Regions from separate parts of the Homo sapiens genome. Here region 2 is linked to region 1. The links come from fine-mapping of genetic effects on gene expression. Tissue or cell type: whole blood. Region 1 holds a variant in brackets; the other region holds the start of a gene. All regions are shown on one strand. Distances are between the middles of the regions.

Region 1 (8,104 bases):
CACTTTGGGAGGCCGAAGCAGATGGATCACGAGGTCAGGAGATCGATACCATCCTAGCCAACATGGTGAAACCTCGTCTCTACTAAAAATACAAAAATTAGCTGGGTGTGGTGGCGCATGCCTGTAATCCCAGCTACTCAGGAGGCTGAGGCAGAATTGCTTGAACCAGGGAGTTGGAGTTTTCAGTGAGCCAAGATTGCACCACTGCATTCCAGCCAGGCAACAGAGCGAGACTCCATCTCAAAAAACAAAACAAAACAAAAAAACAAACCAAGACTAAATGGAGCATTTAGTGAATCCTTTAAAGAGACCTCATGGGGATCTTAGCTGTCCCAGGCTGCCCACACAATGAGGCCTATGACTGGGGGCTGCTGCCACCATTAAGGGTCCCAGAGCTGTCCAGGGCCTGTCTCCACCTTCAAGAGTCATCCTGCCCTGCTTCACAATGCTCCCCTCTCCTTCCTTCCTTGCCCCTGGTACAGGTGGTCAGCCAGGGTCCCCAGCACGTCTGACTGGGTCACTAGCCAGGGTGTGACGCAGGTGGGAGAGCCCACCGAGGCATAAGTGGGAGCCTCTACCCTAACCCCTGCTGGGTCCATGGAGCTATCTATTCATAGCAGCAGGACCACCTTTTTTTTTTCGAGATGGAGTTTCACTCTTGTTGCCCAGGCTGGAGTGCAATGGCGCCATCTCGGCTCACTGCAACCTCCGCCTCCCGGGTTCAAGTGATTCTTCTGTCTCAGCCTCCCGAGTAGCTGGGATTACAGGCATGTGCCACCACGCCCAGCTTATTTCATATTTTTAGTAGATACGGGGTTTCTCCATGTTGGTCAGGCTGGTCTCAAACTCCCGACCTCAGGTGATCTACCCGCCTCGGCCTCCCAAAGTGCTGGGATTACAGGCGTAAGCCACTGTGCCCAGCCTCAGGTGTTCTTTTAGCACTGTACCTTTACACTTGGTTCCCTCTGCTTGGTGTATTTTCTCTACTTTCCCTTGTCTTAAAAGATCCAGCTCATCAACCTCTTCCCTATGCTCCTAATGTTACCCTTACAAAGGATGCCTTGTGTTGGTATGGCAAGCCCTCAGCACATGGCAGCTGAATGAAAGGCTGACCCAGAGGAGGTCAGGTTTACTCACCTTGTCCCACACGACCAGTGACTGAGGATGACAGGGACACAGGCCTCAGGAGACCCTGGGAACTGTAGTGAGCAGTAGGTGGGGCTGGAGGACCCTTGGCTGATAGGAGAGTTCCCTGTGCCCCACATAAGCGATTTGGGGATAAATTCTTTCAATGAAGTAGGAAGGACATGGAGGTAGAAGGAAGGAAGCCTAGGCTACGGCAGTCACCTCCTTTATAGAGAACTCTTAAGCATCAGTCTCCTCTGGGGTAGGAGGGAGCCTGGCATTTTGCACTTGTTTGGGTTGTTGGGGAGGTTGGCTGGGAGGGGAAGTCCTCATGCTTTAGCACTGGAAAAGGCAGAAGGAGCTGAACTGGGGATTCAGTTCTGCAGTCACCGTCCAACCTGTAGCCTTCTGCTAGACCCCCACTGCCCATCTCCCTTGGGACCTACAGACACCCCACATCACAGGATTCAAGTTTGGGTTGTCCTGACCAAAATTTCCTTCCCAGCCCCCAGTAAGTACAACCTCCTGGCAGTTTAGGGTGAAAGGCAGCCCAATGACAACTGGCTTGGCTGGGCGCTACTAGGTTCTTTTCTCTTCAGCTCTCAACATAGGGAAAAAGGGAAATATGTGCCAGGGCCCAAGGGCCCAGAATGTTGCCCAAGACAATCTTCCTTGAGTTTTTGTGGGCGTGGTGTTATTTCTGCAGAGCTCAGAGGAAGTCAAATTCTTCACTTTCTGCTCAAAGCCACAGGCTCTCCAGAATTTTAACACAAGTAAGAAGAAAGAAACTCTCAACCATACAAGGGGTATATCAAGACATCATTAAAGTGGCTGGGTGCAGTGGGTCACGCCTGTAATCCCTGCACTTTGGGAGGCTGAAAGTGGGTCACGCCTGTAATCCCTGCATTTTGGGAGGCTGAAGCGGGTGGATCACCAAGTCAAGAGATCAAGACCATCCTGGCCAACATGGTGAAACCCCATCTCTACTAAAAATACAAAAATTAGCTGGGTGTGGTGGCACATGTCTGTAGTCACAGCCACCCGGGAGGCTGAGGCAGGAGAATCGCTTGAACCAGAGAGTTGGAGGTTGCAGAGCCAAGATCGCGCCACTGCACTCCAGCCTGGTGACAGGAGCGAGACTCGGTCACAAGAAAAAAAAAAAAAAACATCATTAAAGTAGCCATGGCATTTTGAGGCACCTCAAATAAAGAGAGTCCTGGGTGGATTTAAGCGAACAGTTTGTTATAATGAACCAGAAATACAAGATTCCACTGAAACTGAACAGTTGACAGAATATGGTTGAACTTAAACCTTCAAGGGAAACAAGGGCAAAACAAAGCTAATGAGTGGAAAAGTCCAAGATTAGTTTGGGATAAACATGAGGATATAATTGCATTTTAGCATGGCTATCTTCTGACCTCTTCCAGCAGTTCGTCTGCCATCATTCTCCCTTCTGACACACCTACCAAATCAAATGGCTTCTGATCCTCTATATTGCAGTATAAACCAACCCTATAGTACCCCTCTGGTCATGATACAAACCCAGAAGGAAAGTCTGTAAATCTCATACAAAGGTAGAAAGTGCAATTCAACCCAACACGCTGGTTATGGTATATGTGCTGTCAATGTACATGGTAGCAACTTGAATCAAACCAGAGCTGCTACCACATGTAAGCAACCTCTTATGCTGCCCTGTAGTGATGTCAATGTTCTCAGTTTACTAAATTATCAATGTGGAAGAACGCATTTTTGAGCTCCAGACCTTCTAAACATTTTAAACAGGCTATCGAAGAGGATGTAACAGAACCCTATTTCAGAAACCTAAGGATCAGGGAGGAAGGAACACTGACCGGTTTTTCTGGGATGTTTCTGTGGGGGCAACAGGGATGAACAAAAGAAATGTTAGCATGTCAGAGCATATGACAAGTGAGGGGAGACAGAGGTAGGAAGAGGGTGTTCTAGCCACAAGGCTAATGCATTTGTGTTCAAAGAGAAGTCTGGGCAAAGGAGGGGAAACCCCCCCTCCCCCCTAAAAAAACAAAAACAAAAAACCAAATCAAAGGACAAAAGGGTTTCATACAACACAGTATCAAAAAGTAAAAGGAACACACTAAATGCACAAGCTGGTGGCAAGTAAGTCCACAGCCTATTGTGATAGGTCCATCCAGCATCAATCAGATTTCTTCTCATCTGTTATCTCAAGGTTATTTACAGATGTGTTGACTAACAAGAGTCTCTCATGGGAGGATGGGCA[G/A]GCTTCAATCATTGGTTTCGGGATCTGTCTGCGCCATGTAGGCATCCAACTCAGCATCCAGGTGTCCTTTTGTTTTCGACATATATGCATCCAATTGGTTGTCCAGCTGCTCCTTGGTCAATACAGGGCGAGCAAGGGCACCTCTCCCTCGTCCACGGCCTCGGCCTCGGCCTCCAAAGCCCCCTCTTCCCCGACCTATCATACCCCGACCTGGCCCAAAGGGGAAAAAAAAAAAAAAAGAGACAGTTACAAGTAAGTTTAATAGGTGCTGTAGTAAATGCCCCTTAGAGCAGTGGGGCCTAGCTGAGAAAAGCTGAAGGGCAGGGCAAAGAGGAGAAATCTGGAAAAAAAGGAAACACAATGGGTAGAAAGCAACACATGGAAAGCACACATAATGAATCCTCTATCACATGATCATCTCTAAATGCTATTTTAACAAATTTTATTCTATCAATAAAGGAAAATAATTAACTGGCAACTATAATTTTAAAAAACCTTAATCAATCCTAAGATAAAATTACCTAACATTTGAGATTCACTAAGTTCATAATTAAAATACATGACAGATAACCCCATTTGGTAAGATAGGGAGGTGGTAACAAGAGCACAGAGCATCAGGGGTGTGAAGACAAGACAGTTTTCAAATTAAGTTTATTGGAGACCCTTCTGGAAAGTCATCTCACCTGTCCTTAAACTTATCAAGTCTAATGAGCTAGCTGACCTCATGTGTCAGGAGACTGAGTTTTTCTGACACAGGAACAATGTAGGGGAGATTTGAAAAAATATTTTGAGTTGTCCTAGCTATTTCTACCTTTAATTCTAGTTACCTTATGACAACTGACAATTGTGGTTATCTGAGAAGCAGTGTGAATTCAGTTAACAAAACAAACTCAGCTTTTTGAAAAGCTATTTTAGTCTCTCCCACCCTCGTGATGTCTCTCAGGATCCAAGTCAAGATAATTTGGAAACATGTTATTTCATCCTGAAACCCAAACTAGCTTGCACTTCACTCAGTAAGTATCATATAATGGGAGAGAAGAAAACAAGCCCTTGGTTATCAACTTTTCTTTCCTAACAGTTATTATTCCTTGGCAACTTCAAGGTCATAAGTTATGGAAGACCCAAGACACCTTTTAAGAGAACCAAAGCAAATATACACAGGGGCTTCAATAGTGTTTTTTTTCTGGACAGGTGTTGGGAGTTTTCCACTAAGCTCTAAACCAGAAGGCTCCCATGAGATTTAGTATTAACAGCAGCAACATCATTAAACTCTTTCCCAATCTGGGTCATGAGGTCACAAGACAAACATCAATAAATTTCAAAGGCAAGATTATCAATAAGAGCCAGTTAGTTAACTGATAATAATTCCATCTTGCTCTCTACCTTAAGCAAAAAAAGTCATCTCTGGTTCTCCACAGGCACCAAATGTGACATTGAATTTATTTGGTTTCAGAGCCAATGCCCAGCTCCAAGTCTCACCACCCTCTTAACTCTACTTCATCTTTGTATCTCTCTCTCTCTTCTATATTCTCATGTGACTCAAACCAGGATTTGGAGCTACAGGGTGGTATGTGGTGGTGATGGTGGTGGGACAGGGGCAGAGAAAGGCAAAACCCTAAACTGACCATTTTGGGGGGTATTTTCAACTATACAATTTAAATTTGCAAGAGCTTGGAGGAAGATGGCATATAATCTGGCTCTATAATATGCACTTGATTGATTCTTGGAAAAATCATGAGACTTTTGCACTACCAGCATGGTAATTTGAAAAATAAGCCAGTTTCAAATAACAAAACAAGACAAACAAAGAAGCCTGCCTATGACTTGAAGCTGTGCAGAAAGGTGGCTCTGAGTTTTTAAGGGAGGAAAGTAAGGGGGAGCTACTCTCTGAAGTTGGTAGCTGACTAACCTCTACCACCGATTCCGCCACGACCCATAGCTCCACGCCCTAGGCCCCCTCTCCCAGGACCTCCACGACCTCGAACACCACCTCTTCTTAAGCCCATTCGGGGAGCTACGGCTCGTCCACCTCGGAGCAGGTTTTGACCTTAGAGAGGAGGCATACAATGTATATGCAGGTAAATCCAAGAGACACAAAGTAGATTCTAACCAAAGGAAGGCGGTGAGGGTTAAATGAAGGTAATTCAGTTAGTTTTTAGGTTGGCTGGGGCAAGCTGCATACTGTGAACAGATTAAGCTACTCTTTATTCAATCAATTCAACAAGTCTGACCACAAATCCATTTTTGGAAGTTGGGAGTTAATTCAATTAGTAAGTACATACATTTAATAAATATCTACTGAATAATCAGATAGATGCCTAGCATTATGGTAAATTTAAAAATAAATGCTATGGTTCCTGATCTCAACAGATTCTTCTAGGGAACAAGAACTATACAGGGAACAGAGTAATAGTGCCCCAAATGAACATATATAGGTAAGTGCTGTGGGTCAACTTGTCCTCTTTTTCCAGCTGTATCAGTGTTTTACTAGCACCAGGAACAAAGAGATATAGGCCAAAAGACCTATAAATTTCTTATGTTTGACTTGTTTCTAGAACTTGAATGTGCTTTGATTCAAGCAACAGCAGGGTGTTTTAAAATGGAATGGAGATGACATGAATTACCTGTTGTTACGCAGGTCATAGCCTCTCACCATTGCACATTATCAGAAAAGGAATGGTATTGATAAAAGACATGCAGCACTATTAAAAATATGTGATTTCAGAAGTTATTATATTAATACAAATTCAGGCTTAAAGATGTTAAACAAACGTGTCCATAAGCAGCCCAAGAGAAAAGGGAAGGGAGTAGGGCCCGACAATTATCAGGGTACACAGCACTGACCTCGGAGTGACATCCCGCCCCTAAGTAGGGTTCTGGTGGCACGTCCCCCACGTAGTCCTCCTCTGGGCAAGCCTCTCTGGATTATGGGTAGGCCTCGTCCTCCGATTGCTCCCCTGGCCAGGGCCCCTATGGGTCGGCCTAACCGTGCCTGGATGTTACTCTTACCCAGGCGCTGCTTTAAGCTCTTCTGGAAGAAAAGGTGTTAGGGGATTGAGATCAAAAAAGCAATCCAACAGGATTTGGCAACTCAAAGTGCAGAGAAAAAGAAGCAAGTGAGATGCTGGTGTGAAGGGAGATAAACCTGTTGTGGGTGTCAAAAGGATCCCAAACCAGAAGCAAGCCTTTGCCTCAGAACATGTTATACAAGCAGCAGAATTTTGATCCAGAGCAGAAACTCCAAGAAGCTCAAGTGTGGTCCCATGAAATGGGCATCTCCACAAATTACCTCACTAGTTTGGCTACAGAAGTCATACACTGCCAGTTGAAACTTAAGTTTTCGTAAGAACATTCTATAGTTCAATCCTGGATTGTACTGCTTTTGAACTACAGGTTGACAATTATATGACTTGATTCATACCTGCCCATGGACTACCACTGTCTTCAAAGGCTTACTCAAACACCATAGGAAGTTCATCACACTCTGGGCAAAACTTAAATTACAAGTTCACTTGAGTTCTTGTGACTTAAGAACAAGATTGATTTCTCAAAAAGGCCCGTGTGCTCCATTTTTCCTCTGAGAATCTATTTCCAGACGGTCCACTTTTTACCTTAAGATGTAAATAAACACAAGAAAGTCAAATCTCCTTTCCTTACATTTCTTAAAAATCCCTAATTCCATGCCTGCACTTGCAAACAGCTCCTTTAAAACAATGATGACCTTAAATTAAAAATAAACATGTAACTCAAATGTATCTCCACAGTCAGCCAGCCAAACGTATGTTAGAATTATTCAGGTGATCACAAAACTCAGGGCCATATATAAGAACAAGGACACACTACAGAGATAGGGTATTTTTAAGAATCTGTTCTCAAAAGAAAACCATTAAGACTACATCTCAGAGAATTAAATTCCTTCAAAGGAAAAAGGGACAGCAATAGCCCTGAACACAACCAAGCTCCTAGTAAGCCTGGCTGTCCATAAAGCCATCAGTCAATCTGAAAGAAAATAAATTGTATAGCCCCTTCAGGCTTCACCCACAAGTGACTACCAACGTGTATGTGTGTGTTTTCTAATCAACCTCTCAAAAAGATGCTGTGAAGCATTATTAACTTTCTAGCACAAGATCATAAATTGCTTCTCATCAGTGGGGAAGGCTCCAAACATTATGCATCTAGCATAAGTAGGTGTAACCAACCGTAACGGCCTGTCCTGTTACTCCCGATTAACACACAATTATCAGGTTAGAACTGCATTCCACAAGTCTCTTGCGTTCAGTTATCCTGCATATATTAATTCTCCCAAGCTTTGTGCTTTAAAAGAACTGTACAGTGCTGGGAAGTTCTTTACCCATTCCAATCCTTAAGTGCCACCAATACCGGCCTTTAATATTAACAGGGAAGTTAAGGATGTCAACTATACCACTTAGTTTCCCTTCTAGAGGTGTGCTGTGTAAGGCAGCCTCTATAGCTACATGTGGCTATTTCAATTATTTTTATTTTGAGATACAGTCTCGCTCTGTTGCCCAGGCTGAAGTGCAGTGACACGATCTTGGCTCACTGCAACCTTCGTCTCCCAGGTTCAAACAATTCTCCTGCCTCAGCCTCCCGAGTAGCTGGGATTACAGGAGCTGTCATCACGCCTGGCTTATTTTTGGTGGAGACGGGGTCTTGTCATGTTGGCCAGGCTGGTCTTGAACTCCTGACCTCAGGTGATCCACCTGC
Region 2 (8,104 bases), 300 kb before region 1:
TCACTCAGGTATGCGTGGCTGCCTTCCCTGCATGTCTGTCTCCCTTCCCTTTTCTCCTGCCATGTTGTTTCCCTCCCACCCTCCTTTCCTGAAATACCTACTCTATACTCATCCCCTTCCATTCCTCTGTCCTCCGCCTGCCCCATCTTTTATCCATCTTGTCTCCTCTTGCTTCACAGTGCAAACCCAAACGCTGTGGTTAAGCTTTTTTAGCTTCAAACCCTGGCTCCACCTCTTACTAGCAGTCACCTTGGACAAGTTATTTAATTTCTATAAGCCTCAGTATTTTCATTTCTAAAACAAGGATGGTTCATAAGGATCAAATGAAGTAACATACATAAAATACTTAGCACCACACATAGCCCAGGTATGCTTGACAAATAGTAGCTTACCCTTTCCTTTTATTTGCCTCCTCTGTTCCTGTCTGTTTTATATCTGTCTTTTATCTCATGCCTCTATCTTGTCCCGTCTCCTCCCCTGTATCCCCTCCTAATTTCATAGAATTCGTAGAATCAGTCAATTTCCTACTGTGGAGCCCAATTCCTTCACTTAATAGATGAGGAAAGTGGGACCTAGAGGGAAAGTGACTTTTCCAAGTTTACCCAGCAAGTTAGGAAGAGTTGAGACTAGAACTCGAAGCTCTTAGTTTAGGGCTTTTTCCACAGAGATGAAATTCTTAGCCCTTGTCTCCCTTCCTGTCCTTTTCTTCTTGTTCTCTATCTCTACTCCTCTTTTCTTTCATCCAAATGCTCTTTTCCCTCTCCTCTGCCCAACTTTTCCTCCTCCATTGCTATCCCTGGAATGTGTGTTCTGTGTTCCATCTTTACTCAGGTCCCCTCTTTTGTAGGAAAGACTGAGGCCAGATTAGCAAGGGCTCTGTTCCCAGAGTGTGGAGTGAGCTTGACTTCCCTTCCTTTCTTTCTCCTTTTCTTTCTTTCTTTTCCCACCCCCTCTGGCCTCTTCAAGGCTGTAGAACAGCAGTTCTCAACCTTAGTTCCTTATTTACTAACAATAAATAGTTCAAGTATCAAGATTTAAGAATGGTTTACTTCTAAGGCTAGGCACAGTGGCTTATGCCTGTAATCCCAGCACTTTGGGAGGCCAAGGCGGGAGTTCAAAACTAGCCTGGTCAATATGGTGAGACCCAGTCTCTACAACAAATAAAAAATTACCCAGGTGCAGTCGCGCACGCTTGTAGTCCTGGCTACTGGGGAGGCTGAGATGGGAGGATCACTTGAACCAGGAAGGTTGATGCTACAGTTCCAACTATGATTGCACCACTGTACTCCAGCCTGGGCAACAGAGTGAGGCCCTGTCTCAAAAAAAGAGAATAGTTTACTTCTGGAGTAGATTTAAAATTACCCCTGTGTTAGCCTCACTATATCACTTTCATTCTGATAGGCACTTTTTTTTTTTTGGAGACGGAGTCTCGCTCTGTTGCCCAGGCTGAAGTGCAGTGGTGTGATCTTGGCTCACTGCAACCTCCCACTTCCTGGGTTCAAGCAATTCTCCTGTCTCAGCCACCCGAATAGCTGGGACTACAGACGCCTGCTACCATGCCCAGCTAATTTTTATATTTTTAGTAGAGACGGGGTTTCACCATGTTGGCCAGGCTGGTCTCGAACTCCTGACCTCAGGTGATCCACCTGCCTTGGGCCTCCCAAAGTGCTGGGATTACAGGCATGAGCCACCACACCCTGCCAACTAATACACATCCCTGGGGTTGAGTAACTGCACTCAACCCCAGGGATGCCCGTGAGAATGTGGAATGTTGTCATGTTTGTTTTGGGAATGGTTGTAGCTAAAGAAGGTGGGAAGCTCTGACTGAGAGTTCTTGGGGTATACACTGAGCAGTAAGCTTCCCTCTTTTTACTTCTTTTCAGGGCGTCCCCCTGGATACCAGTAAACTGTCCACTGACCAGCGGTTACCCCCATACCCATACAGCTCCCCAAGTCTGGTTCTGCCTACCCAGCCCCACACCCCAAAGTCTCTACAGCAGCCAGGGCTGCCCTCTCAGTCTTGTTCAGTGCAGTCCTCAGGTGGGCAGCCCCCAGGCAGGCAGTCTCATTATGGGACACCGTACCCACCTGGGCCCAGTGGGCATGGGCAACAGTCTTACCACCGGCCAATGAGTGACTTCAACCTGGGGAATGTGAGTACTCAGGCTCCTTGCTCAAAAGCAGGGGAGTGGGTGAGGGTGGGTCAATGGGGCCTGAATGGCATGGCTGGTGCACTGTGAATGGGGAGATCTAGGTGGGGTGGGTGGTGGGGAGATCTCCTCTCCCCGGAGGTAACATAGCACTGCCAGCTTGGGGCTCCTCTCTTCCTGCGTTTGACCCTACTCCTGCCCCTCTATTTCTGCTCAGCTTGCTCTTTGATGACTTCTGCCTTGACCCGTTCTCTTCCTGGCATGCACATGCTCTGGCCCAGCAGGTACGGTGCCCATACTTACTTCGGGCCCCGTGCTCGCTTCTGTCGCTCTGCTTGCTGCCACCTCCCTCTGTCATTGCCTCTGTTCCTGGGGTGGATGAAGGTTGCTGGGCAAAGGGGATATGTTAGCAGGGCTAGGCAGGACACCAGTTCTAAATCCTACTTCCTAAAGATTTGTCTGTATGTCTATAGCTGGAGCAGTTCAGCATGGAGAGCCCATCAGCCAGCCTGGTGCTGGATCCCCCTGGCTTTTCTGAAGGGCCTGGATTTTTAGGGGGTGAGGGGCCAATGGGTGGCCCCCAGGATCCCCACACCTTCAACCACCAGAACTTGACCCACTGTTCCCGCCATGGCTCAGGGCCTAACATCATCCTCACAGGTGAATGGGGGTGGGTGGTGATGGGAAATGGAAGGAGGAAGTGACACATTCACTAATGAGTAGGAGATTGAGGGGTCTTGGAAAAGTTTACAGGACATGGGGTCCTCACCTGTCTCTTCTACCCACAGGGGACTCCTCTCCAGGTTTCTCTAAGGAGATTGCAGCAGCCCTGGCCGGAGTGCCTGGCTTTGAGGTGTCAGCAGCTGGATTGGAGCTAGGGCTTGGGCTAGAAGATGAGCTGCGCATGGAGCCACTGGGCCTGGAAGGGCTAAACATGCTGAGTGACCCCTGTGCCCTGCTGCCTGATCCTGCTGTGGAGGAGTCATTCCGCAGTGACCGGCTCCAATGAGGGCACCTCATCACCATCCCTCTTCTTGGCCCCATCCCCCACCACCATTCCTTTCCTCCCTTCCCCCTGGCAGGTAGAGACTCTACTCTCTGTCCCCAGATCCTCTTTCTAGCATGAATGAAGGATGCCAAGAATGAGAAAAAGCAAGGGGTTTGTCCAGGTGGCCCCTGAATTCTGCGCAAGGGATGGGCCTGGGGGAACTCAAGGGAGGGCCTAAAGCACTTGTAACTTTGAACCGTCTGTCTGGAGGTCAGAGCCTGTTGGAAAGCAGGGGTAGAGGGGAGCCCTGGAAGCAGGGCTTTTCCGGATGCCTAGGGGTGGGCAGTGCCAGCCCCTCCTCACCACTCTTCCCCTTGCAGTGGAGGAGAGAGCCAGAGTGGATACTATTTTTTATTAAATATATTATTATATGTTAATAAAAAAATCATATCAAACCCTTGGTGTGGTTAGTTATTTGGGGCATGGCTGGGGATCTAGGGAGTTATAGGGCCATGGGTCTTTTTATCTATTAGGCTTTTTGCATCTTCTTAGCACCACTGTGCTTTGTGGAAGGGCCCCACAGCCTCGGAATTTGTACCCAGCTGGATGTAGGCTTCCACGGCAGCAGGAAATCACTTCATGTGCCCTCCTGTCTGTCCAGGGCCCTGCTGCAGCATCAGATGGGGGCTTTGACTGATCAGACAAGTTATTCCTCTTCCTCAACCCTAGGTCTGGCAGTGAGTCGGGTAAGGAGGTGATTGCTGGCTGAGCCCACAGGTCTGAAGTGCTCCTAGGTCTCAGGGAAGCAAGCCTTCATCCTCACTCCCTCACTATGCATGCATTCACTTCACCCTCTCCACTCTTCACCACTCATTCATTTTAGTTTTAATTAAACAGATCCTTCAGTGCCATGCATGTTCTGAAGGTTTTCTCTTTCTGGATTGGGTTGCCAGCCCTTGGACCAGCCGTGTGGGCCTCTGCACCCCTCACTCCCCCAACCCGCATAGTGAGAAAAGTAGAGCCCCGCAGTTACCTTACCCCCACCTCCACTGCTCTATTCCACACCCTGCAGTCCTGGCCTCTCTTCCTCTTTCCAAAGCTCTTGTCATTTTCAAAAAAGAGAACTGAGAGCTTCTGGTTCTGGTCCAAAGGGAATGCCCTGTGCCCTAAACCTGGAAGTAGGGGGAGCCACCTGGGTCCCCGTAGACTAGACCTTCGGGACTTCACCTGCGCCCACATCATGCTTGCCACATCTGACTGCAGGACCCAGGCGGGAAGGGAGCGCGCCGCGGCCCTCTGGGTCGCCTGGGGTCAGTGTCCTGAGGCACGGGCTGGATGGTGGGAAGCTACCTGGGTGCAGGGGGCCCTCCCAGCCGCCAGGGGTCGGGCTGCAGGCGGCTGGGCTTTGGGCAGACGCTTGCCAGGGTCACGGCCGCCGGCCGAGGAGGAGGGGTGGGGGTAGCGGCGGCGCCCGCGGCCCGGAGCGGGGGTTGGGGGAGTAGAGAAAGCGGGGCGCGCGGAGGAACGCTGGGTCCCCGGCGCCGCGGGAGCTGGGAGGACCGAGCCGGCCGAGCGAGCAGCGCGGCAGCACAGTCCCCGCGTGGCGCAGCGCGGCGGGGACGCGGGGACCGCCCGGATCTCCTTCCACTGCGCCCCGCGCTCTGCGGTCCTCGGCCGCCTCTTCTTCCTTCACTCACTGCCCGGGCGGGAGCGGCGCCCAAGTCGGGTGCGCCATGTCTGGGGCCGGGTAGCCCCGCCGCCCGCCGGCCCGCCAGCTCGCCCTCCGAGCCACCCGCCAGCGGGCCGGCCGGCCGGGAAGCGCGGGACAGGCAGGTAGGGGCTGGACCGGGCTGGGCGGCAGGCGGGGACGGGCAGGAGGGAGCGCGGGCGGCAGGCGGGGTGGGGGATGGCCCCCAGCTGCTGTCCCTCACTGCACATCTGGTTCCGGTTCCTCTCTCCTGGGGAAGTGAAAGTGGAGGGGAGGGCACCTCCCGCAATTAGCTCGCCGTGCCCGGCCTCCTGCACCCCCTTCTGCTCCCGTGGGTGCCGGAGTCGGAGCCGCCCTCCCTCCCGCTTGGGTCACGCGGCGGCCGGCGCTGCTGCCGTCACGTCCTCGGCCGCCGGCGCGCCTGCTTCTCTGCCCTCCTGCTCCTTCCTCAGCCTCCTCCCCCTCGGCGCGCCCTCTGCCCCAACCCGAACTTCCCGTCACCCGGCACGCGGGCGTGGGGACCCGGAGTGGGCCCTGTGCCCGTTGTCTTCCCTAGGGAGAAAGGGCTGCTTTCTGCAGGACTCTTCCCTGGCTTGGTGAGGGGAGGCCCCGGTGCGCAGGTCCTGCGGATGGGTGCCACCCACTTGCCCCTCAGAAGGTCCCACCTAATGGCCTCTGCCTGCTGCCTTGGGCATAGGGCTCCCATTCGCCCTCAGTGGATGAGGGACAGGTCTGTGCCCCAGAATTAAATCAAGAGGCTGACGCTGACTCCTGGCTTTACCTCCCAGAAGTGGAGTCTAAATTTAGCTGGGGTTGGTGTGTGTACGTGTGTGCGTGTGTGTGTGCGTGTGTGTGTGTGTGTGTGTGTCCAGAGGCCAGGTGATGAAGAAAGCCAGCCTGGCTCTATGAGATTCCTTATTCCCTGTTCTCTGGGGGAACAGCAGGAGGTTAGCAGGACTGCACATCCTGGAACCATTCTGAGCCTCCTCTGCCTTGCTCAGGATCCTATAGTCTGAGATTCCAACTTGGCGTAATGCTGTGCTGGCACCTTCAATGGTAACCCCACCACCGCCACCGCCACCACACACACCCATAGGCTGACTTCCTCTGAGTTGCAGCTTCCCCTCCACTGTTTCAGGAAGTAACCTCCCTTCCCCTCTGAAGCACCCCCCACGCTTCTGGGCCCCTGCTGCGAGCTACCCACCAGGCTTTTTCCCAGCTTCTGCACCCTGGGGCGCCTCAGGACCCTTGGGGCTCCTACTCCCCGGGGTTGGGCCATGGAGGCAGGTGAGAACTAGGCTGTTGTGGGCCTGTTTCTGTCTCTGGGCTCCATGGTGGAGGGTGTGGGATGGCCGGGACTTGTCTCTCACAACTGCTTTGGATCTAACGAGCTACCTAAGGATCCTGGAGGTGTGAGAACACTGGATTTTGGGCCAGATTGGTGGAGTTAAGCTAGGAGAAAGGACACTTGGGTTCGTTGAAAAGACTCTTAAAGCTTGGGTTTTGTGGGCTTTCTCAGAAACCCATGGGGTCCTCTTAAAAACCTAGGAGTGGGCTCTTTAAGAACATTGGCAGGATCACAAGGTTCTTATGGTGTCATAACTAGAGTAGGAAGGTCAGAAACCCTTGAAAAGACTGTAAGGTTGGTATGATGTCATGGCCAGCATGAATGATGTCATGGAAGGCTATTACAAAAAAGATTGTGATCTCTGTGATGTTATAACTGGTGAGCCTTTAAAAGGGACACATGGACAATGTGAATGTCATAGCTCAGGTTAGCTGTGTGTGGTGGAGTTTAGGTTCTTTGAGGGGAGTGCCAGGACCATTAAGTGGGAGGGATCTGGTCTCTTTAAGAAGCTGTGGTGGGCAGTGATGTCACAGGGGGAAGAGTTCAGGATTGGCCGACCCCTTATCCTGCCTTTCTTTGGAAGGACTAGGAAGAGGAGGGGAGCAAGAGGGTACCCTGGTTGCCATGGCATCCCCAGCCTTCCTTGCTTCATCTCTCTCCCACTTGACCATTCCAGATGCAGTGAGTGAGGGGGGGGCCATGGCGGAGGAGCGGCCCCCCCGGCTGGTGGATTACTTCGTGGTAGCTGGGCTTGCAGGGAACGGAGCACCCATCCCTGAGGAAACGTGGGTTCCTGAACCCAGTGGGCCCCTGCGCCCTCCCCGGCCAGCTGAGCCCATCACAGATGTGGCAGTCATCGCTAGGGCACTGGGCGAGGAAGTGCCCCAGGGCTACACATGCATCCAGGCTTCTGCTGGGGGCCACCCCTTGGAACTCAGTGCTGGACTTCTGGGTGGAACTCAACCCGTCATCTGCTACCGCAGGGGCCGTGACAAGCCCCCCCTCGTTGAGCTGGGGTGTGTGCCCCTACCCATGCTGGCACCAGGGGAGGCTGGGAGGGACTCCAGTGAGACAGGGAGAGGTAGGACTATGGAACAAGGGAAGGGCAATGGGGATGGGAGCCTGGTGGGCCAGGGGCCAGGAAGGAAGGACTGAAGTTGTATGTACTTAGTCCTTACAGATGCGATTTCATGTGCTAGTGCTGCTCCTTGCTAGCTCTGAGAGCTTAGGCAGGTTTTTGAGCTCCTCTGGGCCTGTTTTCCTCATCTGTCAAATGGGGAAAATAATTCATCCTCATAGGATGGTCGAGATTAAATGAGATAACCCATGTGACAGACTTAACAGAGTCAGTCAGTGGTAGCTTGTATAACTATTTTTTTTTTTTTTTTTTTTTTTATAGACAGAGTCTCTCTCTGTCACTCAGGCTGGAGTGCAGTGGTGTGATCTTGGCTCACTGCAACCTTCGCCTCCTGGGTTCAGGCAATTCTCCTGCCTCAGCTTCCTGAGTAGCTGAGACTATAGGCATGTGCCACCACGTCCAGCTAATTTTTGAATTTTTAGTAGAGATGGGGTTTGACCATGTTGGCCAGGCTGGTCCTGAACCCCTGACCTCAGGTGATCCACCTGCCTTGGCCTCCCAAAGTGCTGGGATTATAGGCATGAGCCACCGTGCCCAGCTGACCCTTAGTGTTTATTAATGAGTATGAGAGCCATAGAAGGCATGCAGGATTGTTGCTGACCATGAAATAAGGCCAAAGGCCAAAGAAAGGGCACAGGATTCTGGAGGGCAGAGTTCAGCAAGAAGAGGTGGGCCCTAGTGTTAGAGTTTGACAAGGCTGTGGGTACAAGGCAAGTTCAGGGGATTAGATAGGCAGATCTGGCAGGATTGGGTCTTTGTCCTCTACCCTGAC

What was found. PIP is the estimated chance that this variant, and not a neighbour inherited with it, causes the effect.
Region 2: DENND4B starts here. The variant in region 1 is fine-mapped to the expression of DENND4B in whole blood (TOPMed, PIP above 0.99).

The regions. Positions count from the first base shown.
Region 1 is chr1:153,640,549-153,648,652 of GRCh38, reverse strand. CHTOP (chromatin target of PRMT1) reads right to left here. Exons shown (of 6, transcript NM_015607.4): 4 at 6,224-6,407; 5 at 5,289-5,426; 6 at 2,347-3,589. The coding sequence ends at 3,384. Among named protein-coding and RNA genes, the nearest start is that of CHTOP, 11 kb to the right of the region's middle. The variant G/A (reference allele first, on the strand shown) is at 3,380.
Region 2 is chr1:153,943,164-153,951,267 of GRCh38, reverse strand. DENND4B (DENN domain containing 4B) reads left to right here and starts at 4,550. Exons shown (of 28, transcript NM_014856.3): 1 at 4,550-4,967; 2 at 6,871-7,210. The coding sequence starts at 6,894. CRTC2 (CREB regulated transcription coactivator 2) reads left to right here. Exons shown (of 14, transcript NM_181715.3): 11 at 1-8; 12 at 1,884-2,153; 13 at 2,624-2,810; 14 at 2,939-3,593. The coding sequence ends at 3,159. RefSeq lists enhancers at 3,979-4,048, 4,860-5,360, 5,829-5,878, 6,199-6,298 and a silencer at 4,439-5,338.